Regions from separate parts of the Homo sapiens genome. Here all the other regions are linked to region 1. The links come from fine-mapping of genetic effects on plasma protein levels. Region 1 holds a variant in brackets. A gene starts in each other region. All regions are shown on one strand. Distances are from middle to middle.

The links. PIP is the chance, under the fine-mapping model, that this variant and not a neighbour inherited with it causes the effect. Protein levels are from antibody-based Olink assays in UK Biobank. Linkage for the fine-mapping came from a reference panel and not from the study's own genotypes, which makes the PIPs less certain.
Region 2: it holds the start of MAP2, and the variant in region 1 is fine-mapped to the plasma level of the MAP2 protein (UK Biobank, PIP above 0.99).
Region 3: DARS1 starts here. The variant in region 1 is fine-mapped to the plasma level of the DARS1 protein (UK Biobank, PIP above 0.99).

The regions. Positions count from the first base shown.
Region 1 is chr2:240,564,904-240,572,364 of GRCh38, reverse strand. It overlaps RNPEPL1 (arginyl aminopeptidase like 1), which reads right to left and starts at 3,881. Exons shown (of 11, transcript NM_018226.6): 1 at 3,251-3,881. The coding sequence starts at 3,778. DUSP28 (dual specificity phosphatase 28) reads right to left here. Exons shown (of 2, transcript NM_001370465.2): 2 at 7,109-7,461. RefSeq lists enhancers at 2,157-2,795, 2,745-2,924, 2,796-3,434, 7,385-7,461 and silencers at 3,195-3,244, 3,485-3,674, 3,815-3,874, 3,905-4,164, 5,675-5,914. The variant C/T (reference allele first, on the strand shown) is at 879.
Region 2 is chr2:209,420,037-209,428,048 of GRCh38, reverse strand. MAP2 (microtubule associated protein 2) reads right to left here and starts at 4,002. Exons shown (of 16, transcript NM_001375505.1): 1 at 3,773-4,002. RefSeq lists a silencer at 3,932-4,321.
Region 3 is chr2:135,983,243-135,991,006 of GRCh38, reverse strand. DARS1 (aspartyl-tRNA synthetase 1) reads left to right here and starts at 5,381. Exons shown (of 16, transcript NM_001349.4): 1 at 5,381-5,604; 2 at 7,553-7,610. The coding sequence starts at 5,539. It overlaps DARS1-AS1 (DARS1 antisense RNA 1), which reads right to left and starts at 5,831. Exons shown (of 4, transcript NR_110199.1): 1 at 5,491-5,831. RefSeq lists an enhancer at 5,535-5,634 and a silencer at 5,685-5,744.

The DNA.
Region 1 (7,461 bases):
CACTGGGCAGCAGCCTGAGAGAAGGCAGGAGGCTCTGGGAGGGGACAATGGCCAGATTATCTTGCTGGGTTCGAGGGCCAATAGCCACCCCTTAGCCTTCACTTGCCTGCCTGGGCAGGGAGACATCCAGGGCAGGTGACCCAGGGTGTGGCCTGCACTGTGTCATCAGGGCCAGACCCCAACCCAGGCAGGAGGCCCTGTGTCAGGTAGCCGATAGGGGCATCTCCCAGCTAACGCCAAGGCGAAAAAAGGGAATAGCCCATCATTGCATTATCTTAGCTTCCATAGGGAAACTGAGGCACAGTAGGGACACACTCAGTCCAAATTCCCAGCAGTTGATTTGGTCATGGTCAGGAAAAGGAGGCTGGGATGTGGAACCTGGGAAGCCAGAGCCTCCTGATGGCTACGCACTAGCAGGCAGCACGCCCGGGCCCAGAGCCACCCTGAGCCCAGGCAGCCTCGCCTGGAGGGACCCTGCAAGAGACAGGCTCCAAGCCAGGGGACAGCAAGCAGGGAGTGGAGGCCAGGCCAGAGGACCCTGCTGGCAGGGGACAGGAGCGGCCAAGGGAAGGATGGCTGGGGCCGCTGCCTGGAGGCCGGGGGCTGCGGTGAGTGCTGTGGAATGGGTGCGCTCACAGCAGCTGCTACCCACCTAAGGTCACCCCCCCGGCAAACCTCTCATCTGCACCAAAGCTGTTGAGGCTTTCCTCACCCCTAGATGCCGAGGCCAGGCCCCAGCCCCACTGAGAAGCCTGCACACCCGGGGCCCTCCTGCCACTATCCTGCTGCACCCGTCTCATCTTCCTTCCAGGAATTCTGACCTCTCCAGTGAGGGCAGCTCAGAGTCTGGGAGGGGGACCCTCTTCCAACCACAGCCA[C/T]ATCACCTTCGTCCCAAGTCAGCCCTGCACGTCGTATCCACCCTCCCCTCTGCCGGAATGAGATAGTCAAGGCAAACTGAATTGCTCTTCGTGCAGAGGCCCTCCCATGACCATGAGTAGAAGGTGCCCCCAACATGCTTCTAAGACTGGACAAGTGGAATCCACAGCTGAGGCCTGGAGGATCCCAGACCAGGAGGGCTGCCTCCCCCGCAGTCCCGGCCAGACCCCTGCCAGCATTCTCAGATCTCTTCCAAACTTCCTGTTGGTGCCCTGGCCCTGCTGGGCAGCAAGGTAGCACAGGCGTCTCCCATTCCTGCTGAGCCCTGGGCTGCCAGGGTGTTCAGGGCCCACCTGGGGAGCCATTCACAAACGCAGCCTCCCCCTTGGGGGGGGCTGGGACCTGGGAATCTGTATGAAGGAACCTCCCTGCAGGAGTCTCCCCAACCCTTCAGCCTGCACGGCCCCCTCACAACTACTCCTCTCCTGTGGCCTTGCCTCACCCTCCTGAGGCCCTTCTCAGGCTCTGCCCACTCACACCTCTCCCTACTGCCCCATGTCCACCCCACAGCCTCAGTAGCCTGGGTGTCTTCCCAGATACCAGCAGGGCCCACAGCTCCCCACTTGCCCTGAAGTGAGGGGCTGGGGCAGACCCCCAGACAGGACAGGCCCTGCCCCACAGATGGGGCACCAATCCCCGTCAGGGCACCCGGGCACAGGTGCTGATGGGCTGGTGGAAAAGGAACAAGGCTGAAGGGCTCCAGACGCTGCAGGGCAGGAAGAACGCTGTTCTTGCTGGGGTGGGGTGGGGGTGCGGGAATGGGCCCAAGCATCTGCAGCACCTCCAAAAAGCCTCTGGGGGCCTGGGGCCCACTGGCAGGGCCTCCCAGGGAGCTTCCGCTGCATCCTCCCTGGCACAGGGACAGGCTTAGGGATTTGGGCCTGAGTCCCTGGAACATGCAGGAAGAGAAGGGGACTCTACGTGTGGCCCCAGCCCCATGGCGCTCACATACAAAGGTGCATGCCTGAGGTTAGAGTCGAATACTCTGCCTTCTGCAAGTAGGGCGGCTCACAGGCCAGGTGACGCTAGGCCCCCTGTCCACAGCCTGCCAACCCTGACACCACGCAGACTTGGGGGACTATGCCACTCTCCCTGCCCAGAGTACCCAAGGGCCACCCAGTAGGCCATAGGAAGCCAAGAGACAATGGCCACCCTTGCTCACTGGGCCCCGTTCACAGCAGCCTGCTGAGGGCCCTGGTCCGGCCACTCTGCAGGCCAGTGTTGGGCGGACCAGACACGTGGGCTCCAAACACGGATCAAGGCCAAGGAGAAGCCCATCCCTCAGTTCTCACCTGTCATACTGGGAGGCATACTTGCCACCGGTCAGAGCCCTGGAATACCACAGCAGGGGCGGGGCCGGCTAGCCAGCGGCCTGCACACCCACAGGGGTTCTGGGAAAAAGGTGAGGTGGCAGGTCCTGCTTAGGGCTCCTGGGAAATGTACAGGAAGCCCATAGGGGTGCACTGGTCTGGGTTCTTCCTGCCCAGATGTCACCTTGGCTCTTTGTGGCCTGAAGCCTCTCGACCACCTCTCCACCACCCTGTCCATTTATGTGCCGTGACCAGTGACAGCTGGACTTCCCAGCGCCTCCACAGCTGTGTGTGTCTTGCATATGTCGGGTGTCACATGTGTGCCGTCCATACCACCTAGGGATGCAGTATGAACCCCCATGCTGTAGGCAGGAAAGGCCCTGCTCCATCCTGTACACATCCCCACTGGTGGAGGTGGAGGGGGTGCTGCAGCCACAGCGCCAGCCTCAGCCACCTGGCCTTTCTTGCAGAGTCTCTGGAGTGGTGGGTACCCAGTGTGCAAGCCCTGCAGAGCCTATGTGTGTCTATGTTGGGGTCGCGGGGCCCACTGGTCTCAACACTCCACCAGTGCTGGCCAAGGAAGCCCCAAACCGAGCATCACAATCTCCATGGCCCTTTCCTCTGCCTCTGGCTTGGACTCATCTGCACGCACTGGTCACATGGAGGCCCTTCCGCAGCTGACACTCCAGCCCAACCCTTGGTGCCAGGATCCTGCAGATGTACACCTCGGTGGGTGACAGAAGCTGCTCATGTCCCCAGGCAGGGACCAGACACCTGAACGGGAGGCTTCCCGGAGTGACATGCTGTCCCGTGTCCCCGCAGGACTCCGGCTTCTATCCGAGGGTCCTAAGGGCTCACAGGCAACAGCTGGGAATCACCGGGGTGGGGGGAGGGGGGCACCTGTAGGGCGCAGATTCGCGTCCCTCAGCCTGGCCGTGCGGCGAGAGGCCGCTAGCAGCGCCCTGCGGACCGGCCCGCAGCCCCGGCGCCCGCCCCGGACTCACGGCGGGGGCGTCGGTCGAGGTGTACCGCAGGATGACCTGGAAGGGCTGGTGCGCCTGCAGCTCGGGCGGCAGCGTGACGGTGAGCGAGGAGCCGTAGTCGGTGAACGGGTCCACCCTGAAGGCCAGCGGACAGCAGGCGGGCTCGGAGCCGGGCGCCTCGGGGAAGGCGGGCAGCGGGGGCGGCGGCGCGGGCCCCGGCCCGGGGGCGGAGAAGGCGAAGGCGCAGGGCGTCTCGGCGGCGGCGGCGGGGGCGCGACGGAAGGCGGCTGAGTGCAGGCGCAGAGCCGGGTGCGCGTCGAGCACGAGCGCGCGGGGCGCGGGCCGCAGCGCGCACAGCTCGAGCACCAGGCAGCCGGCCAACTCGCGCGCCTCGGGCCGCAGCTCCAGGCCCAGCTGCAGGTGGCGGAGGCGGAAGAGCTGCGCGCTGGAGGCCGAGGCCACGTCCAGGGCGGGCGGCGGCTCGGGCGGCGGGCGGACGGGCGCGGCCTCGGCGCCGGGCGCCTGGCGGCAGCAGCACTGCGCGGCCATGGCCGCCGGCACTAGGTGAAATCCATGGGCGGCGGCCGCGCCGGGCCGCGGGCGAGGGGCGCCGGGCGGCGGCGGCGGCGGGGCGCGGGCACAACAGGAAGTCGCGCCGGGAGCCGCCCGGCCCGGCCCCGCGCCGTGCGCCGCCCCGCTCGGGCTCCGCTCGGCCGCCGCCGGGGGCGCTGTGCGCGGGGCCGGGGCGCGGGGCCGGGGCGCCGGGCGGGGAGGGCCAGGAGCCAGGGGCGCGGGGAGCCGGGGAATCGAGCGCGGCGCGGGGCCGGGGCGCTGTGTTGGGAGCCGAGGCGCGCGGAGCGGGTGAGCAGCACCCCCAGCCCCTCGCTTCCTCCCCGGGCGGCGCCCGGGAGATCCCAGGAGGCGGGATCGCTGCTCCCTCCCAGACACTGCCGGCCAGGCCCCTGGGGCAGCCGCTGAAGGGACCCGGGAACCTTGGGGCCACAGGGGCAGGCTGCTTCCAGGTGTGGTTCGTGTTCCCGAGGAGCGCAGCGTCGCGAACTCAATGTCATCCTTTCATCCGGGGCTACGGGCAGGGCAGGATTCTCCTGGCACCCCTGCCACTCCTCCAAGTCTACAGGTGTGGTCTGTGCTGTGGGCCCTGCGGTGCGAGAAGCGCCGGAGCCTTCACGCAGCGCTGTCAACTACAGCAGCCACCAACCACGTGTGGCCATTTAGATGCGAATTAAATACAGTTAGAAGTTCAGTTCCTTCGTGGCAGGTGGAGTGAGTGAGTGTGTGTGTCTTCCTGGGAGGAGTGGCTAATGGACAAAGCAGGCAGGAATCATTTCCACAATCGCAGAAGTTCCTCTGGGCAGTGCTGGGGACCTCTCATTTGGGAGCCCTGTGCTGGGGTACGAAGGAGGGTCTGGCCCGCCTGTCCCCACCCCATCCGCCAGGTCCACCCTTCCCAACGCCATTCTCTGTGGACCTGGCGAAGGCTGCCCAAGGCTGAGCCTGTCCAGGAGCCTGAGCCCCGAGGGAAGGGGTGCTCGCCTGGCAGAAGCTGCTAGTGAGCTCACAGCGGTTAAATTTTGAGGCTGTGGAATAACAGGGGCCACCATGATGTCGCTGTTGTCATCAAGTAAGAATTCAAATTCCTAGGGACAAGGGGCTTCTGGGGCTGGGGAACTATCCAGGAACCCAGGACACCTCTCTCTTCTGCTCCATTGAGGTGTGGCCGTGCAGGGCTGGACTCGGGTACCGCACTCGACTCAGCGTCAGCCCTGAGTAGTGTTTCCTGTGTCTGGACTCAGTCTCCTCGTTGTGTAACCCTCTGTGTCTACCCTCCTTCCGTGGGGCGGGAAGGAAGGCTGAGAGGGAGAGTGTGCGTTCACGTTTGCGGGACAGAGCACTGAGGCATCATTTCAGTTTTCCCGTAGGACCTCAGGTCCCCACGTGCCCTCTTTAGGGACACGGCCACGATCTTGGGGCACCCATCCCAAACTCACCAGGAACCCCTAGGCTTACACAGTCACTCAGAGGTGTGGATCAGCCTCGCATCCAAGGCTGACAGGGAAGACAGCTGAGATGGGACCCTCCTCACTGCCCCCAGCGCCCTGCCCGGTGGGGCCCTGCAGTGCCAAGGGCAGACTGTTTTCGATGGCACCCCCAGTTCTACGGGGCTCTCCAGAGCCCACCGGGCCATGTTCCTGGCTGGAAGAACCTCAGTTCTGCACACGCGGTGCCACACTAGCTGGGCCTGGCCGTCCGGGGGGCAAGTCACCACAGGGAGCTTGGGGTCTTGCCACCCAGAGCCCCGCATTGGGCTCAGGGAGCAGAGGTTGGGGTCTCGCCCTGGGCACCTCTCCGCGGCCAGTTCTGCACACAGGAGTCCAGAGTTGCTGTGGCACCTCCTCCCCGGGGGCCCAAGGGAGCGCCTCCCACCGCGCACGTATGTGAGGAGCTGCCCTACTGCACCCCATGGAGCGGGAGGCGCGGCTGAGCCGAGGGGGCGGGGTCTGCAACTGAGCCGCGGGAGCCTCTCGCGCCGGCCCCGCCCCGCCCCGCCCCGCCCGAGGAGGCCCCGCCCCCGCCGGCCTGACGCCCCCTGGCGGCGGGAGGCTACGCCGCATGCAGGCCTGGGCAGACACCTCTGACTTCTCTAACCCTGGCAGAGGAGCCTGGACGTCGCGACTGTCAGCCCTGGCTTTCTCCCACAGGAGTTTTCATACTCCAGCTTTTTGGTGATCAGCGCAGTGAAGTGGCTGCGCGGCATCTGCACCCCAGCCTTCCCCTGATGCACCCGAGGGAGGGGTTCCTGGCTTCACCCACTAGGAGGTGGGTGTGGGCATGGAGCGTTTTAGCAGGCTGGGGAGGGCAGCAAAGCTTCCAGGAAGAAGCAGTGTTCAGACAGGGCCGCGCCCAACCCCGACAGAGGACCAGGGAGCTACCAGTTCTCAGATGGAGCTGGTGGGCTAAAAAGGTCTGATGTGACCCACAGGTGTCCTTCAACCTGGCCGGGGCCCTGCTGCCCTTGTCCCCTTGTCACCAGGGCCAGGTCAGCAGGTAAAGGGTGTGCCCTGCCCTGAGGCAAGGGCAGCCGAGGTTTTCATCAGGGTGTTGTGAGCAGGGCTGAGCCGCGGGGGAAACCGCAGACCCAGGTCCTCCCTCCTCTCCAAGCCACTGTTCCTCACCCACTAGTGGCGACCGGCGGCTGCTTCCTTCCGGGTTGATGAAAAGGTTGCATGAGTCATGAGGAGCTTATCTAGAGAGGCCAGCGGCAGGCAAGCCCTCCACAGAGATGGGGACTGCCCTGGGCACCAGCTTGTGATGGGGGCCGCGGTCCACAGCGATGGGTGGTGCCGGCTGGTGACACGGCATAGAGGGGCAGCGACCAACAAGGTGTGGCCTATGCTTGAGGCCCAGGTACACAAGGCGTGGGGAGGGAGAAGGCCCTTCTCACTACCACCCCCACGCTTGGCTGACAAAACCCGTGCTTCCCATCCCCCCAGCTTTGGGCTCTGCCGCATCAGAGATGTTCGGTCCCCAGGTGGGATGCTTTTGCTTAGGAACACAATCGGGTCTCACTGGGAGGGTGGCTCAGACACGGCCCAGCCACGGAAGCATGAGACAACACAGGGCTGGCTCTGGCAGGTGGGCATGAGGCTTTGTGAGGCTTGGGGGCCAGGAAGAGTGGTGCCTCCTACTTCTCTCTGGTGGTGCAGTACAGGTAACGGAGGCCACAGCACCTGTGTGGGCAGCCATGCAGGGCCTGGGGCCTTAAAAATGAAGGATCGAGTCATGCCACCAGGTGAAGGCCATAAGCAGCTTAGGCACTGGCTGAGGGTAGAACATGGAACGAGTATTGGAAAAGGCAGATAAGCACCAACCACAGTATTTTACTCATTGACGCATACAGAATGTAAATACGCGTAGTTGTATATATTAACCAATGACTACGTTATCTGTGATTCACATGTATTACACACATTTTCCTTTTCTTTCCCCACTCCTATTTAAGGAGTGTTGATTCTAGGATAGTCTTTAGGCCACAGGATGTCCAGGAGAGGTGGTGTCTGAACTAGAGAAGGAATCAACATGCTTGGATGCCTCCAGTGGTGGCTTATGGGGTTCCACCCTCACACGGCGGGAGAGGCAGCACCTTGTTGGCTTGACAGTAGCTATGTGACCTTAAGTTGGGGTGCAATGTTGGTGAAACAGAGATCAAAGTA
Region 2 (8,012 bases), 31 Mb after region 1:
TAATTTTTATAAGGAAGCACCATGGCCTTAGTTCAAAGACATGACAGGGGAGGGATGGGGACAAAATATGTTGAAACAGAAAAACAAAACATTTATTCCTTCTTCACCCTCTTAGACAAAAAGGCTCATCTCTACCCTACATGGACAGCTTTTAATAGCTGAGAATTTGCTTTCATTCCACATCTTCCTCTACGCCCACCCACCTACCCACCCACCCAAACCTTCATACAGACTGTCTCCCTTGACTTTGGCCTTTTGTGTACTACATATTAATTTGCAGACTTTTAACTGCTTTTGGTGCCTAGAATCATTTTCTGCAATTGAAAACTGAGAATATCAAAAGTTGTTTCTCATAATGAATAAATAAATACATAAATGGTAATAAGTGCTCTCCTTAATGAAAAATAAAGGCCAAATTTGTATCAAGAGAGTAACATTACTGAAACCAAAATAGCTAGAGAACAGTAAGTCTAACATCCAAATGTCGAATTAAAAAGAATGATGTGAAGGGAGGGAAAATATGGTGAAATGATCAAAATACAGTCCTTACATGAAAAGGTCTAGATTGAGTAGATAAAGGTAATGGCAATAGTAAAGAGATAATTAAAGTAGCAAAAACACTTGATATATCTGAGAGAATCAGATATGACTCAAAGAGTTTATTAGCATCTTTAACTAATCTATAACAGAGACAAAAAAATTTGAGATTGTTTCAAAACTGTTATCTTCAGGTTCATGCATTTACTAATGACTTACCTAAAGTGACTACTTTTAGCATTAAGGAGGATAGTATTGATCTGGGGGTGGTGCTATCTTCTACTGTAACTATTATTTCAGATTCTTTATCTTAATCTGTTAAGAGGAAATTAAGTATTGAAAGGATTCAATAATCAGAGTTACCAACTTGAATACTAAAATCCCCATGTCAGTTTCATATGGTCAGTCTCAAAAGGACATCAATGAATCACTGAAGGATGCACCTATTGTCCTATAAGCAAATGTAATAATGATTTTTTAAAATGCCAACAGTGCAACTACATTTGTTAATAGCATGTCCAGTCTGTTGTCTAACTGCTAGTAAAATTCAATACAAAATATGTGTGTGTGATAAGAAAATACACAAAAATACACCAACATTTTTCTTCCTTTTCCCTTCTGATGTTTAGAAAATTTGCGAACTGGTTTAAACCAAAAGGGGTAAAGGAATGAAATTATTCCTTCAGGCTTAGAGGATTCTGTGCCAAGTTTCATTTCTGGCTACATATTTCTAACCAAGTTCAAGATCCCTGAAAAGGAATACATAAAAGAGAAAATATCCCTTTAACCTCAGTGGAATGACATTAGTAAAGGCTGCTATGGGAAGAGAAAGGCTTTTGCCCTGAGATGGGTGTGCTCCTGGTGTTTGGTTTCCACTGAGAGGATGCCTGCTCTCTCAATGAATCTGAAGTACCTACTAGGATGAGGTAATGGCTGTGCCAGTTTCACTGGGTCATGCTCTTTCAGCACATTCTTTCCCTGTCTCCTCCCTGAGAAGGTGCTGTAAACAAGTCATCCTGAGAGGTGCTGCAGAGAATGAACAATCCTAAATTCAAAATTCTTGAAAACACTGGCCCTCCTATGGCAGTATAGAAGACTAAAGCAGCCATAAAGAAACAGGTTATTTGATTAGAAAAGGGAAAAAAATAAGAGAGGAGATAAATAAAATAAAAATTAATATAACTAAAATATTATTTTATAAAAGGTAGCTCTATTTTTAAATTACTTAGATCTTCAGATGTGTGTTAAGCAATTTTCTACTTATGGTTTTAAAAAAGAAAACTTTGGACATTAAATAATATTGTAGCAAACTGTAAAATATGAAAAATTAAAATTAAATAAACCACAGATAAACAGCATGTACCACTGATCCTAAAGCCACAATGGCTCTGATAATATACAAATCATGAATGCAGATGTACACCTATGATAATCAGATGAAATTACCAGGAAATCAACATAAACATACACACACAAATATAATAATCCTTACTGAATGAGAAAAATGCCTTTTTTCTTGAAGGAAGGGTTCTTTGTGTGCATGGGGCTGGGGCTTTTGGAACATCCATGATTTGCAAATTCACAAGGATTTCTACCAAAATACACCTATTGCCCGGTTAAAGGGCTGCTTTGTGTTATATTCTGATGGAAGGCTGTAATCTTTTCCCTGGGCATAAAATTAAAAGCATTCTAAAGGGCTTCTATTTATTCAATCTATTTGACTGCCAAAAAAAATCATAATTGTCCACAGTGAAATGACATAGTGAAAGAACTATGCTTTTGAACTGGGCTGGTACCTGCAGCTCATGCATGGGACATTTTGCATAATGTGGCTCACATAGAAGGCTTTGTTCTCCATCGCCTCACTGTGGCTGCAAACCTCAATTTCAGTTTGCAATCATTTCCTTTTCTAGACTGATCATTTTAAAATAAATTATACCTTTAACATTTAAATTAGTTCCTTACCAACAGTCATCAATCCCTTTGCCTCACACCCAAAATTATATACCACCCAACAATATTTTTTTGTTTTGCACTACAGATTTTATTCACAACATAATTTCCAAACCCTCAAATACAATTTTAAAAAATCAGTCTCTTAAGTACCTATTTCCTTTTGTAACATGTATATAGTGTATTATACATTTGTGTGCATACTTGTGTGTTTAGGCATTTAAACAAAAACCCTTTACACCGGACTCAATTTTAAAGCGTCTATGTCCTGGAAGCATTGTGCTAAGAGCTTACGACAGATGGCACACAGCAATTGTCACAAACGGGCTTGTTGCTAATGAAAGCTTTTTATTTTCTGACAAAAATCCTGAAGTCCGGATGCCAGGCAGAATAACATTAATTTCCAGTTTTCAAGGATTTTTTTTCTGACTCCATCCATACCCCTCCCCCTATACACACCCAAATATACAGCTCCCCACTCCTAGCCCCCCACACACTCTTTCTTGAAATTTCCATCCTTAAACAAAAGACGAGGTGGGGGAAGGCAGGCAGCCAGCACTGCAGTCCTCCTCTCCCCACCAAAAAAGCCTTTTAAAAAGAAAAGGAAGAAAAGAATAGATGCACTGTAGATTCAGAGGTCCACCCCCAACGTTTAAAAAGAAAAACGACTGTGTGGAAGCCTAACCAGACTCATTTCTTCGTGCCCCGCCCTCCAACACCACCAGGCATTTATTTTTCATTTTCCTACAATTATAAATATCAGTCCTCCTCTCCCAGCTGTTTCTGAAGGAATTACAGAGAAACATGATTTGAAATGGACAAGGCTTCCCTCACTCACTCACTTCCCAGTGTGCAGTTCTCTGCAGCTGGATGAACAAAAAAATCCCCTACCTCGATTTCCTATTTTCCACTATCTTTGTAGAATCCACTCCCCTTCTTTCCACAGCGCAGGTAATACTGGCTTTCGATACACGTATTCTAACCTGGCGTAAGTTTTCAGTTGTTTCAAAGTGGTACCTAACAAGCTCACTCGCTCTTCTACGAAGCCAGGGCTCAGGTACCAGTAGCGTCCGGCCCCCTGCTCCGCAGTGACACCTGGAGAGGACAGGCCCGAATCTTCCGCCAGGTGCACGGCTGGCCACTCGACCAACTACCAGACTGCCTGCTGCGAGTCCCAGAGGACGAGACACAACCCCTCCCCATTCCTATCTCTTTCTACTCAGAGACCGAGGCAAAAGGAGAGGCGCCCTACATAGAGCCAGAGGTGGGGACGGTCTCTTACCTGGGCGCAGAAACTGGATGCACCCGCGGTCGCGACTGCCACCGCTCACGGACTTAGCGCCCTCCGGAGAAAAAGGAGAGGGGTAGAAGGGTTAGGGGAAGAAGGGGAGGGGGGGGAAAAAGAAGGAGAAGGAAGAGAAAGAAGCGGAAGGGAAGTAAAGGAAGAGAGGATGCTGCTGCTGCTGCTGCTGCTGCCCAGAGCCCGCGCAGCCCGAGCGCCCGCCCCAGACTGAGAGCGGCGCCCCCAGCCGGCTCCCAGCGCAGCAGCTCCGCCTCGGCCCCTCCTCCCCGCCCCGCGCAGGTCCCGCCCCGCGCAGGTCCCGCCAGACTCCGCGAGCCCGTGGGCGGCCGCGGCGGGGCTGGCGCTGCCACCGCCGCAGTGTCCGGGAGGGGGAGCACGACCGCTTCGCCTTCTGCCGCAGCCGCCGGCCGCCAGGCGGGGACCGCGAGGTGGGAGCCTCGGAGAGCCCCGCCCAGCCGCTGGCCCGGGCCTTCTCCAGAGCCCTGGTCCCCTCCCGCGACAAAGTGAGGCCAGTGCCCGGGCGGCGGGACAGGCGGGCCTTCCTCACTGGCGTCCTTGGAAAATCGGGGGCAACAGCTTTAGTCTCTCGGGAGCAACCTCCGCAGACCCCCTGCTTCCCTCCCCTGTGTCGCTATGAGGCGGGGTTGCCAGTGGCACCTCACCAGGAAAGCTCACTGGCCTCGCCTCACAAACCCAACCACAGGTGCATCCAGAAAAGACAAAGGAATGTGGGGCGCTTGAGAACATAGAACAACTCTTGTCAGCACTAAAGGAGCAATGGCTGAGGGAGTAGAGAATTCTAGACCCAGCTCTGTCACGAATTAGATTCATTCATTTATTGAGTCAACGAATGTTTATTGACACCTACTATGTGTCAGGCACTCTTCTAAGCATTAGAAACATCAGTGACAGACCTTTCCCACAACCCTAATAAGAAAGATCCCCTCCCTTTATAGTTATTACATTCTAGATAGCCAGACGTATGCTCTAGAGACAGTTCACTTAATCTAACTCTCAGTGTATTCATGTGTCATATGAGAACTAAAAATGACAGCCCAATTCTCTTATGCTTAAAAAGATAATGAATATGAAGGATCTTTGAAGAATGATACAAATACAATGAATTAGAAAGCACGGAAAGTGTTGACCTTGAAATATCACCCTTAAAAAAATTGCCTCTTAAATGCTTTTGAAAGTGAAATGACCACCTGAGAAAACAAATGATTCTTTACCATTCGTACTAAGGAGTATGAATCTTCATAATCAGAGAGCAGCATTTTATTGTAAGTAAGAAAAGTAAGATGCAACTTAGAATTACTTCGAGTGTCTATATCAAGTACTGACAAGGTGTTTTTAAGGTCAGCCAACATACTGAGGTGTGGCTTGTACAGTCTTCACAGTGCTGATGAAACAGCAGCCATAATGTGGTTCTGTCACTTAAATTAACCACAGAATCTTAGAACCTAGAACATTAGAGTTGATGTTTTAGGCAGCTGGTCTAATTTCCTCCATTTTCAGATGGAAAGAGACCCAATGGTGGGAGCCTGCAAGGATTAGAAACCATCACAGAGGAAGCTGTGAAAGCCTGCCCTCCCCAGTCACACCCAGTGCTCTGTGTCCTGCCTCCCCCGCTCTGCTTCATACCATGTGCCAGTGACGCTTGCAGTGAGTTTGGAAGTATCAAGGCACACCCAGGAGCTGGGAGGTTGGAGGAGTTGATGCTCCTCCTCGGAAGATGGCCTTACTGAGAAGGAGGTCTTAGGAGACTAGGAAATCATAGACAGTATGTGGATGGGAGGAAGGAGTAGGCATGCTACCAGAGTGTTAGCAGCTGACATTCATGACCAGGCATGCAGGCGCAGGTGCTCAATGAGAGTAATTTTCCAGGGCCAGGAGCGGTGGCTCACACCTGTAATCCCAGCAGCTCAGGAGGGAGTATCGCTTGAAGCCAGAAGTTTGAGGGTGCAGTGAGTTATGATTACACCACTGCACTCCAGCCTGGGTGACAGAGTGAGACCCTGTCTCTAAAAAACAGCAATAAAAAAGACATTATTTCTCTGATAGTTTAAAGTACAGTGTTCCTCAGCACTTTTTGTTTTTGTTTGTTTGTTTGTTTGTTTGTTTTTTCCTCCACTTTAAGATTAGCTGAGGCAGCCAAACTCTAATGGCTTTTCTCTTTGGGGAACCTGGTCCTTATATGGGAGATTGCCTCCTCTCGACACACATCTTAGAGTTCTTTCAGAAAAATAGCATCTATATGTTGTAATTCAATAGAGAGAATTTAATATGGGGAACAAATTACAAAGGATTCAAATGACTAAAAAGCCAACTAGGGGATGATGAGGCAACACGATGATAGTTACTAGCAGGAAAGTACTACCACTCTCAGGCTGGGGAGTGCTAGAGAGGAGGCTTTACCAGGAATGAGGAGCACAAGCTACATTAAAGGAACTGAGACCACAGTGGAGATGCTTACTGGGAGACAGATAATGCTGGAGGGTCCTCCAAAAGCTGAGAGTGAAAAGAAATATTGTGGCCCTCCTTTAACCTGTATTTCAAAACCCTGTCATTGGGTGAACCTAGAAGAAAGTCAGTTGACAAAGCAGCCTAAGAAATACAGTTTGCAGGAGTCAGTGCCCTGGGATGTCAAACAACTTTAGGAGGGGACTCCATATGTTTAGGCTTCTGGTTTAAGGAGGGATCTTTGTGTTGAAGTGAACTTTTTTTTTTCCCTCAGCAAAGCATCCCTTCCTTAGAGTAATGATCCTTTTCATATGATTCCCCATATGCTAGTAAAATGTGTGCCTCTCTTCTCTTTCTCAGAGGTGGACATGTGACCCTGGCTAACTCTATAGTAGAACCTGTTCTCCTAATGTATAGTGATTGATACAGGGTGGTCATATGTCCCAAATATTTCCAATCAGGCTTTTTTCCATGAGATGTGTCATATGAACAATAGTGAATCGGATGGTATAGGTATAGAGTTGTCAGTGACTGTATTTCCTTCCATGCAGAAAAGCAATGCTGAGAGATGGAGAAAGAACACTTGAAAGACTCCATGGATCCTGCTACGTCTCAAGGTAGAAATGCCATTTTTCAAGCCAATAGATTTTTGTTTCTTTTCTAAGCTTGCTGTAGTTGGATTCCTGTCATTTTCAACTGAAGAAGCCTTGACTAATACAGTGCTGGACTCCAAAAAGTAAACCACAGATAGAAAGAGCCTGCCAATATTGATTTCCACAATTACTTGTCTTGTCTTCAGGCTAAATTCTTGATTTGTATTTATTTGGCCCGGAGGATTACGTACATAAACAACCATACCCTTTTCTCAGGGACAGGACTTCTGATAGTTTCTCAGTCAGAAAACCATCAGAATAAATGTATTTCTACTGATTAGAGAAAGGTCTACTGGTATATAGGAAGTAATGAAACCTTCTCCCCAGAGAGTCAAGGAGTAGGTGAGCCTTTGAGGAGGTTGTACTGCATAGTGTTAAGAGCACCAGACTTCAAGTCAGATCTGAGGGCCCATATTTGCTGTTCCCTGCTTGTGTGACCTTGGGTACATCTCTCTACCATTTTGAACCTCAATATTTTTATTAGCAAATGAGGAGACTCAACCACATGCCACCTAAGGTCACTTTAGTTTTATAAAGCTATGAGAAATTATAGCTCAGCTGAGGATTTGCTTATTAAGTTGATGAACATTAATTAAGTGGCCCCTAGAGAAACAATGAGCAAGGTTCATACATACACAAACAATGCTGATACAATGTGCAGCCCATCATAGAAAAGATGTGGATGCAAGATGCAGGTATGACACTGAAGAGCAGACACACATAAGTCTTTTACCTTCTATGTGTGAAATGGGCTTTTTGTGTTTTGTTTTTAATTTCTTGACCTTTTCTCTATGGATGACTAGAGGCACATCTATCAAAATTTCTATCATGTTTCACAAGTTTTGACCATTGCAATGGCTTTAAAATTTAAAAATGAGCTTTGTAGTATGGTCTCCCATTTCCAATTCTATGCCTAGTTCATTGAACAGGTGGTGAAATTACCATTGACTTCTTCTGGACCATAAATGTATCATTCTGTTCAAAAATTTTGTTGAGGTATAATTTACATTCAGTTAAAAGCACAGATCAGAAATGTTCAATCTACACCTTCAGCCCCAACCCATAGAGGTAACTACACTTTTGATTATGTTTCTCTGTGGCTT
Region 3 (7,764 bases), 100 Mb after region 1:
ATCATTTGAGGTCAGGAGTTCAAGACCAGCCTGGCCAACATGGTGAGATCCCATCTCTACTAAAAATACAAAACTTAGCTGGGCATACTGGTGCTCATCTATAATCCCAGCTACTTGGGAGGCTGAGGCAGGAGAATCTCTTGAACCCAGGAGACGGAGGCTGCAGTGAGCCAAGATCGTGCCACTGCACTCCACTCCAGCTGAGACACAGTGAGACTCTGTCTCAAAAAAAAGAAAAAGAAAAAAAAAAGTATAAGCATTGGTATAAATTTTGGTAACTACAGTCATCAACCAGAAACTTTGTATACACTGAGGTTATAAAACATGAAAAGTGACTTCTGCACTAAGATGGCAGATCTAATCTTGCTCCTGCCCTTAATGCCACAAAAACTATAATCGAGAGGATGGGAGAACAGGAGAGGAGACAATCCCCCCAAAAATGCAGGAAGCCAAAAAGCAGCAGGTGGGCCAGTGGTAACCTACTTAGCAGATATGAAAAGCTGAATCCTAAGGGAGCAGTCAAGAAAGCTGAGAAGTGACCTCACTCATACCACAGAAATCACAAAAGACTCAAGACAAGCAGCACCAAATACCTCTGGAAACGGAGATGGGGAGTGGGAATGATAATGACAATTTGGGGAAAGTTACAAGAGAAGTCTGATTCCTGCAGCCCTCCATACTCTACTCTTTTGGCAAGAGTCCTCTCCTACCCTGACATGATGGATTCTGTAGAGAAGGTAAAAGGTGGGTCTTTGACTTCAGGAACTGGGTACTGTACCCAACTAGGGGAATTCGGTGACCAAATACATGTGGGATGCCAGATATTCCCAGAACACTAGCAGTGAGACCTTTATTCTTCATGCAGCAGATCAGAAGAGCTTTCTCCCTGAACAATCTGACTAGCCAAAGGGAAAGATCTAAAAATACTGACACCCATCAAATGGCCCACCCAGACCATCATGCAGTAAAATCCACAATGGACAAACCCCATGGAAGTGCTCAGAGAGCTTCTAATCAGCTTTTTAGTCTCCCCTTTTTTTTTTTTTTTTTTTGAGACAGAGTCTCGCTCTGTCACCCAGGTTGGAGTGCAGTGGCGCAATCTCGGCTCACTGCAAGCTCCACCTCCCGGGTTCACGCCATTCTCCTGTCTCAGCCTCCCAAGTAGCTGGGACTACAGGCGCCTGCCACCACGCCTGGCTAATTTTTTGTATTTTTAGTAGAGACGGGGTTTCACAGTGTTAGTCAGGATGGTCTCGATCTCTTGACCTCATAATCTGCCCGTCTCGGCCTCCCAAAGTGCTGGGATTACAGGCGTGAGCCACCGCACCGGGCCTAGTCCCCACTTTTAACATAAGCAGACAATCAAGGATTCACTGAACACCTGAGGTAGGTCTCTAACATGGAAGACAGAGGCCAAAAATAAACAAATAGAAAAGCAACTTGTAAGAAAGGGGTTATGTAGAGAGAACGCTTTTAAAAATTCCCCAAAAAATCACTTTATTAATATGCTCAGTAAGATGAGAAGATATTATATACATTTTAAAAGATCAGGATTCTATTCTTTTAAAGGACCATTCAAATAACAAAAAGAGTGCTTTAGGAAATTATTAAATGATGGCAATAATGGGAAAAACGCAATTGAAAGACTATATGATAAAGTTGAAAAAATCTCCCAAAAGCATATCAAAATGCAGTAAGATGGAAAAATGGAGAGAAATTATAAGGAAATTAGACCAGCTCAGGAAGTCCAATACTTAATAAGAATTCAGGAAACAGAGAAGAGAAGAAATGGAAGGTAGAGAATCATCAAAGACTTTTTTCAAGAAAATGCCCCAGAACTAACGAGCTTCCAGATGGAATGGCCCAATGTCCAGCACAATGATAAATTTAAACCCCCAGGCTGATAAATATTATGAAATTCCTGAGCATTAGGAACAAAGAAGGACCCATGTAGTCTACTTAGCAGATGTCCTGTGAGCTTCTTTCTTTTCCAGGGGGAAAAGAACCACATACAAAGGACCAAGAATCAAAGTGGTGGCTGGGCGCAATGGCTCACACCTGTAATCCCAGCATTTTGGGAAGCCTAGGCGGATGGATCACTTGAGACCCAGAGTTCGAGATCAGCCTGGGCAACATGGGAAACCCCATGTCTACTAAAAAACAAAAAAATTAGCTAGTCTCATAACCCAGTCTTGAAAAAAATAAAGAAATAAAAGAACCACAATGGCACTTCAACCCTCTTAACAGCAACAACTAGGTCCATGGACCTACCCAAAAGTCATTTTCCAGCTCCCTAAATGTATAGTTTGGGATGGATATTGTATTGGAAATTGGCAGAGTCCGACGCTGATTCCTGTCAAGACAGGAACACACAGGACAAGTAAGGAAATGTCAAGGCCTGAATGATTCCATCAGTAAAGCTGTAACATGCTGCTTTTAGATTTAGATGGTTTATTACTTACATAGACAGTGAAAACAAGAATAAGCCCCCAGCCTGGACAACATGGTGAATCCCCATCTCTACAAAAAATACAAAAATTAGCTGAGCATGGTGGTGCACACCCGTAGTCTCAGCTACTCCAAAGGCTGAGGTGGGAGGACCCCTTGAGCCCGGGAGGTCGGGGCTGCAATGAGCCTTGATCGCACCACTGCATTCCAACCTGGGCAACGGAGTGGGACCCTGCCTCAAAAAAAAAAAAAAAAAAAGGCCAGGTGCGGTGGTTCACTACTGTAATCCCAGCACTTTGAGAGGCTAAGGCAGGCGGATCACCTGAGGTCAGGAGTTTGAGACCAGCCTGGCCAACATGGTGAAACCATGCCTACTAAAAATACAAAAATTAGCCAGGCATGGTGGCGGGCACCTGTAATCCCAGCTACTCGGGAGGCTGAGGCAGGAGAATCACTTGAACTTGGGAGGTGGAGGTTGCAGTGAGCCAAGATCATGACACTTCACACCAGCCTGGGAGACAAAGGGACACTCTGTCTCAAAAAAAAAAAAAATTAAATTAAAAAAAAGAGAGAGAGAAAGAAGAATAAGCCAAAGTTGCCAGCTCCCTGTGATTCTTGTCCCATTAAGGACATCACTGAAACAAAAGGCACCAAATGACTGCAACATGAGTAGTGGGACACTCTGTTGCTTAACAGCCACTTCTAGACTCCAGTTAAGCAGTAAGATATTATATACATTTTTGTATTCTGCATTTCCCTTGAGGGAAGGGGGCAAGAAGTCCCACACCTCATCAGAATCTAGGAGGTAGTAAGAAACCATCCCATAACAGCCTCTCAGGGAGACAGGGAAGTGAGTGGGAGATGGCCTTCCACCCTCTCATGTTCCAGCAGGATCACAAGATGTTTTTCCAAGATTCAGGTTAGCTGCAGTTCCCGCCCTTGCCTACATGGCTTATGTGGATCCTGCAAAGCAGCCAGAGCACCATAGCAGAGCTGTTCCCCTATTCTTTGGTCTGTGGAATAGGCTACCATACCGGATAAAGCTAAGAGGAAATCTCTAAAAGTCACTTTCCCAGCCCCCAACTAGGATAGGAAATCATAAACAATAACATGTCCCCAAGGGGAATAGTGGAGATCAGTGCAACCCTTAAAGACGTAATGGTTGGTAGTCTCCATCACATTCCTATTGTCACCGGTGTGGCTCCAGCAAAAACCAGACAAATTCAGGAACTTGACAGTAGACTACTGCAAGTTCAACCAAGTCACAGCCTCAGTTGCAGCTGTGGTATCTTTACTACAGCAGATTCTTAAGACCTCAGGCATATGACATGTGGCCACTGATCTGGCAAATGCTTCTTTTCTATCACTATCAGGAAAGGAGGCCAGAAACAAGAATATATATTTACAGTCTTATTCCAGGACTAAATAAGAATACTTTTATCAAGGCAACGGGGCCAAAGTAAGAAAGAAGTACATGGACAGGCCTCATGGACAGATGGAAAGGTAAGATCGCTACCCTAGCAAAGGGATAATAGATGGGATTTGTATTCAGATTTCTGATAACCAGTCCATACATTAGGACTATACCTGATTGAGGCAATCCAAGTTTTAAAAAAAATTCCAAGATGAAGCAACTTCACAGACCCCCTTCTGTATTCGAATCCCATGAGTATAATGGGATGCCTTTTTTAACGGAATGTGATACTGATCATGAATATTCAGTGTTGCTCCCCAAGGAATGAGTAAATTCTCCTGCCCCCATGAACTCAGGAATGACGATGTGACTTGTTCTCGCCAATAAACTAGGAGAATGTGAAATGTGTCACTTCCAGGCAGCCATTTTAAGAGCTAAATTCTCTTCCTGACTCTGTAATAATGGAAGCATGTATCAAGATGGCGCATCTATCAGCCTAGGTACCTGTGTAATATTAAGAACAGGAACTAGGACTTATCTTTTTATTGCCAGCACCTGATAGAATGCCTGGCACAAAGTAGATGTTTGTAAATAATCTTTGATCAATTAAATAGGGAATAAAATTTCATACCACCTGCAATTAGAAGGAAAGCTACAGGCAAGCAAGGACCATGGCTGTCTTCTCACTACTCCATGGGGGAGCCTCCAGAGAGAGCCTTTCACTTGCGCTGGGATCTATGTGCACCCCTTAACACTTTGTGCCAGACTAAGACACTACCAAGTCAGTTGAAACGACGGAGTGCAAACTCTGGCAGGGGAAACAGTATTAAACCAAATCTCCAAATTATTTTCAATTTCGATTCAAAACTCATGAATGATAGCTTTTTTAAAAAATCAGTTTTTTAAAAAAGCCTAACTTGGGGATATTCGCCCATTGGGCAACCAACACTATGCACTGTCCCTAACACTGCAACAGATCCAGGCAATCAATGCAATTGTATGCGTTTCTTGTTGTCGTTGCCACTGTATTTACACCTCACTTACACAGGGACTGGTAACCCATGCTGCCTTGGCAAGCCAACTGCACTCCTCTGTCCCAACAAGCAGGGCAATGGATTGCGAAGAGGCCTCCTCCGTCCCCAAGCAGCTACGTCGCCCAGGGGAAGAGAGAAGGCGGGAAAGTCCAAGAGAGGAGAAACCAAGGCCCGCGCTTAGGTGGGTGTTTTAGTGACGAGTCTGCGGTTACAGCCGAGCGGAGTTGAAAGGGCTGTTAGAAGAATGGAGCAGAAGTCGCAGTTGGGACGAAGCTGAAGAGAGCTGGCATTCGCCCAGGTCTACAGCCAGCCACCTGGTAACCCCTGCCCCCGCCCCCAGAGCCAATCCAGCGAAACTACCGCGAATTCCCGGGAATTCCCTCCAACTCCGGGAAAACTCCCGGAGGGGCGGGGCAAGAGTGGGAGGAGACCCTGCGCGCGGCCGCCAGCGCTCCGGGATCTCGAGATAGCCGCAGCTCTCGCGATCTTTCTGGAGCCGCACCTCCACGCGGAGTCCGAGCGCGTGTGCTGAGACCCCAGGGTCGGGAGGGCGGAGACTGGGAGGGAGGGAGAAGCCCCTTTGGCCTGCCTTACGGAAGCCTGCGAGGGAGGGTGGTGTCCACTGCCCAGTTCCGTGTCCCGATGCCCAGCGCCAGCGCCAGCCGCAAGAGTCAGGAGAAGCCGCGGGAGATCATGGACGCGGCGGAAGTGGGTTTCCTCCTTTCCTGGGCCTGGGAGGACAGACCCCTGGGCCGGGCTGCGCCGAGGGAGGGAGGAGGGGGAGTGGGGCCCTACAGGTCCTTGTCGGCACGTTCTCCGCAGGCTGCGGGCGTGGGGTCCGGGCGCCTAGAGCCCTTGCCCCAGCAGTGGGGCCAGACCCTCTCCGGACCGCGTTTCTTGCGGGGGTCACCTGGGAGTTTGGCCTACTAGAAGCGTGTCCCCGGGGTGGGGAGGACGGGAAGAACCAGCCGCCCCGGAAGTAGGAGCGCGGCGTCACACTTGAGTCTCTCTGGGTTAGGCACGTCCTGCACGTAATGCACAATCCCTGGGAAAATTTTAATAAGCACTAGTAATCGATATGTACTCAGCCCTCGTGTTCCTAATGCTTTAGCAAGTAATGACAGTACTTAGCAAAACCATCTGCCAATATGTTTAATGACCATTTCCCATGTGACAGCTTTAAAGAACACATGTCATTTTTATTTACTTTCTCCCTCTCAGTGACCCGGTAAGGTAGGTAATAGGAGTTACCGAGAATGCATTTGAGGTGAAGTGACCCCAAATCACGTGGATAATTCATAACACCCAGTGATCCTTCGGTGCTTTTCAGAAATCAAAGTTTGAAACCATCCTACAAGTTATGTGTGCTGTAGTACTGTTAAGCCTTAATTTCCGTCTGGCTCCCTAATTTTTCTATAAGGAGTTCTGAGTTTGTGGTAAGCAACATGAGAAGTAAGGTCATCTTAGAATACTAAATGAGGAAGAGTCACTGAAATATTAATAGTACTAATTATGAATGCAACTTTTTTGTCCTTCACACAATTTAATCTCCTTCTGTTGCCCTCAGGCTTCATTGTGTGACTGTATCTCTCTACTCTGGCCAGGGTTATCTTTTTCTTTAAATTGTTCAGTAAGCGCCTTAAACATGTCTGGTTTTATTTTGGTGTAAACACAAAATCCAGCACCCTCCTGCTCTAAAGGAGAGGATTCCAACAGGTAGCTGTAAAGTGACAGAAACTTAATTGTTTCATACAGATCTTAAGTTACCTTGTAAAAACTAGGGCAATTATTTTTGTGTACTCTTAATCTGCTTAATTACATAAACTATCAGTGTACCCTTACAGATAGTATAGGTCTAGATACAAGGTAGACATTGTGGCAGAGTTATGCCATTTTATAGCTAGAAGAATCTTAGATCATTTTAGAGGTAAAGTAAGATTGAAATAAAGGCCACTTATCTATTTAATAAGTATATTTTGTTAACAGATTGGACCCTAGGTCTTCTGTTTCCTGTTCCTAACTCTAATCTGTAACAAGAAATTTGATATTATTATATTGTCAGTGTCAAACTCCTGTAACCTGGTATCCTGAATCTGGTTTTTAGAAACAGGAAGCTGGTGAATTTTTTGATGATGTTTTACAAAAGGAAAGTTGTAGTTAGCTTATACCCAGCATCTCCAGTTTCTAAAAACTGTGGACATCTGGTGCTCAGAAAGCTTACCCAAAACGTTGGTTCTCTTTGAACATTTCTTCCTGTAATAGGAAGTTAATAAAACTGTGGTACTTCATCCTACTCCCTTCACAGAGGAAATTTATGTCCCTGCTTTGAAGTAGTTTCATCTTTTTGAAGAAGGTAGTTAAGATGTGTTGTACATATGTGTAAATTTTATCTGAGAATGTTATTAAGTATGGTAAATCCATCTAGGAGTGGTGATCTTCAAAACAAACTAACCAGAAACAGTACTTTTCTGTTTTCTGTAGAGTACATATGTAAATGAATGAGAGATTTCCACATTATGAAACTACTGACTTTCTGAATTAATAAAATGATCCTGAAAGTTAAATTCATTTTTATATTCTATTATTAGTATTTATGTGTTTACTGTGCTCTTAGTGTTTACATAAAAAGTCACGATGCAAAAAACTTTTTTTGTAGGATTATGCTAAAGAGAGATATGGAATATCTTCAATGATACAATCACAAGAAAAACCAGGTTAGTAGCTATGTGACAGTAAATAAAGCTTTTTTGCTTTCTAATTCCAGGAAAGCTCTAAATGAAATTTTAAGTAAGGTTGGCATAAATCTGAAGGTATAATTCTGAAAAGCTTAAATGACATTAATAATCCAAGTAGATGTCATAACCCTGT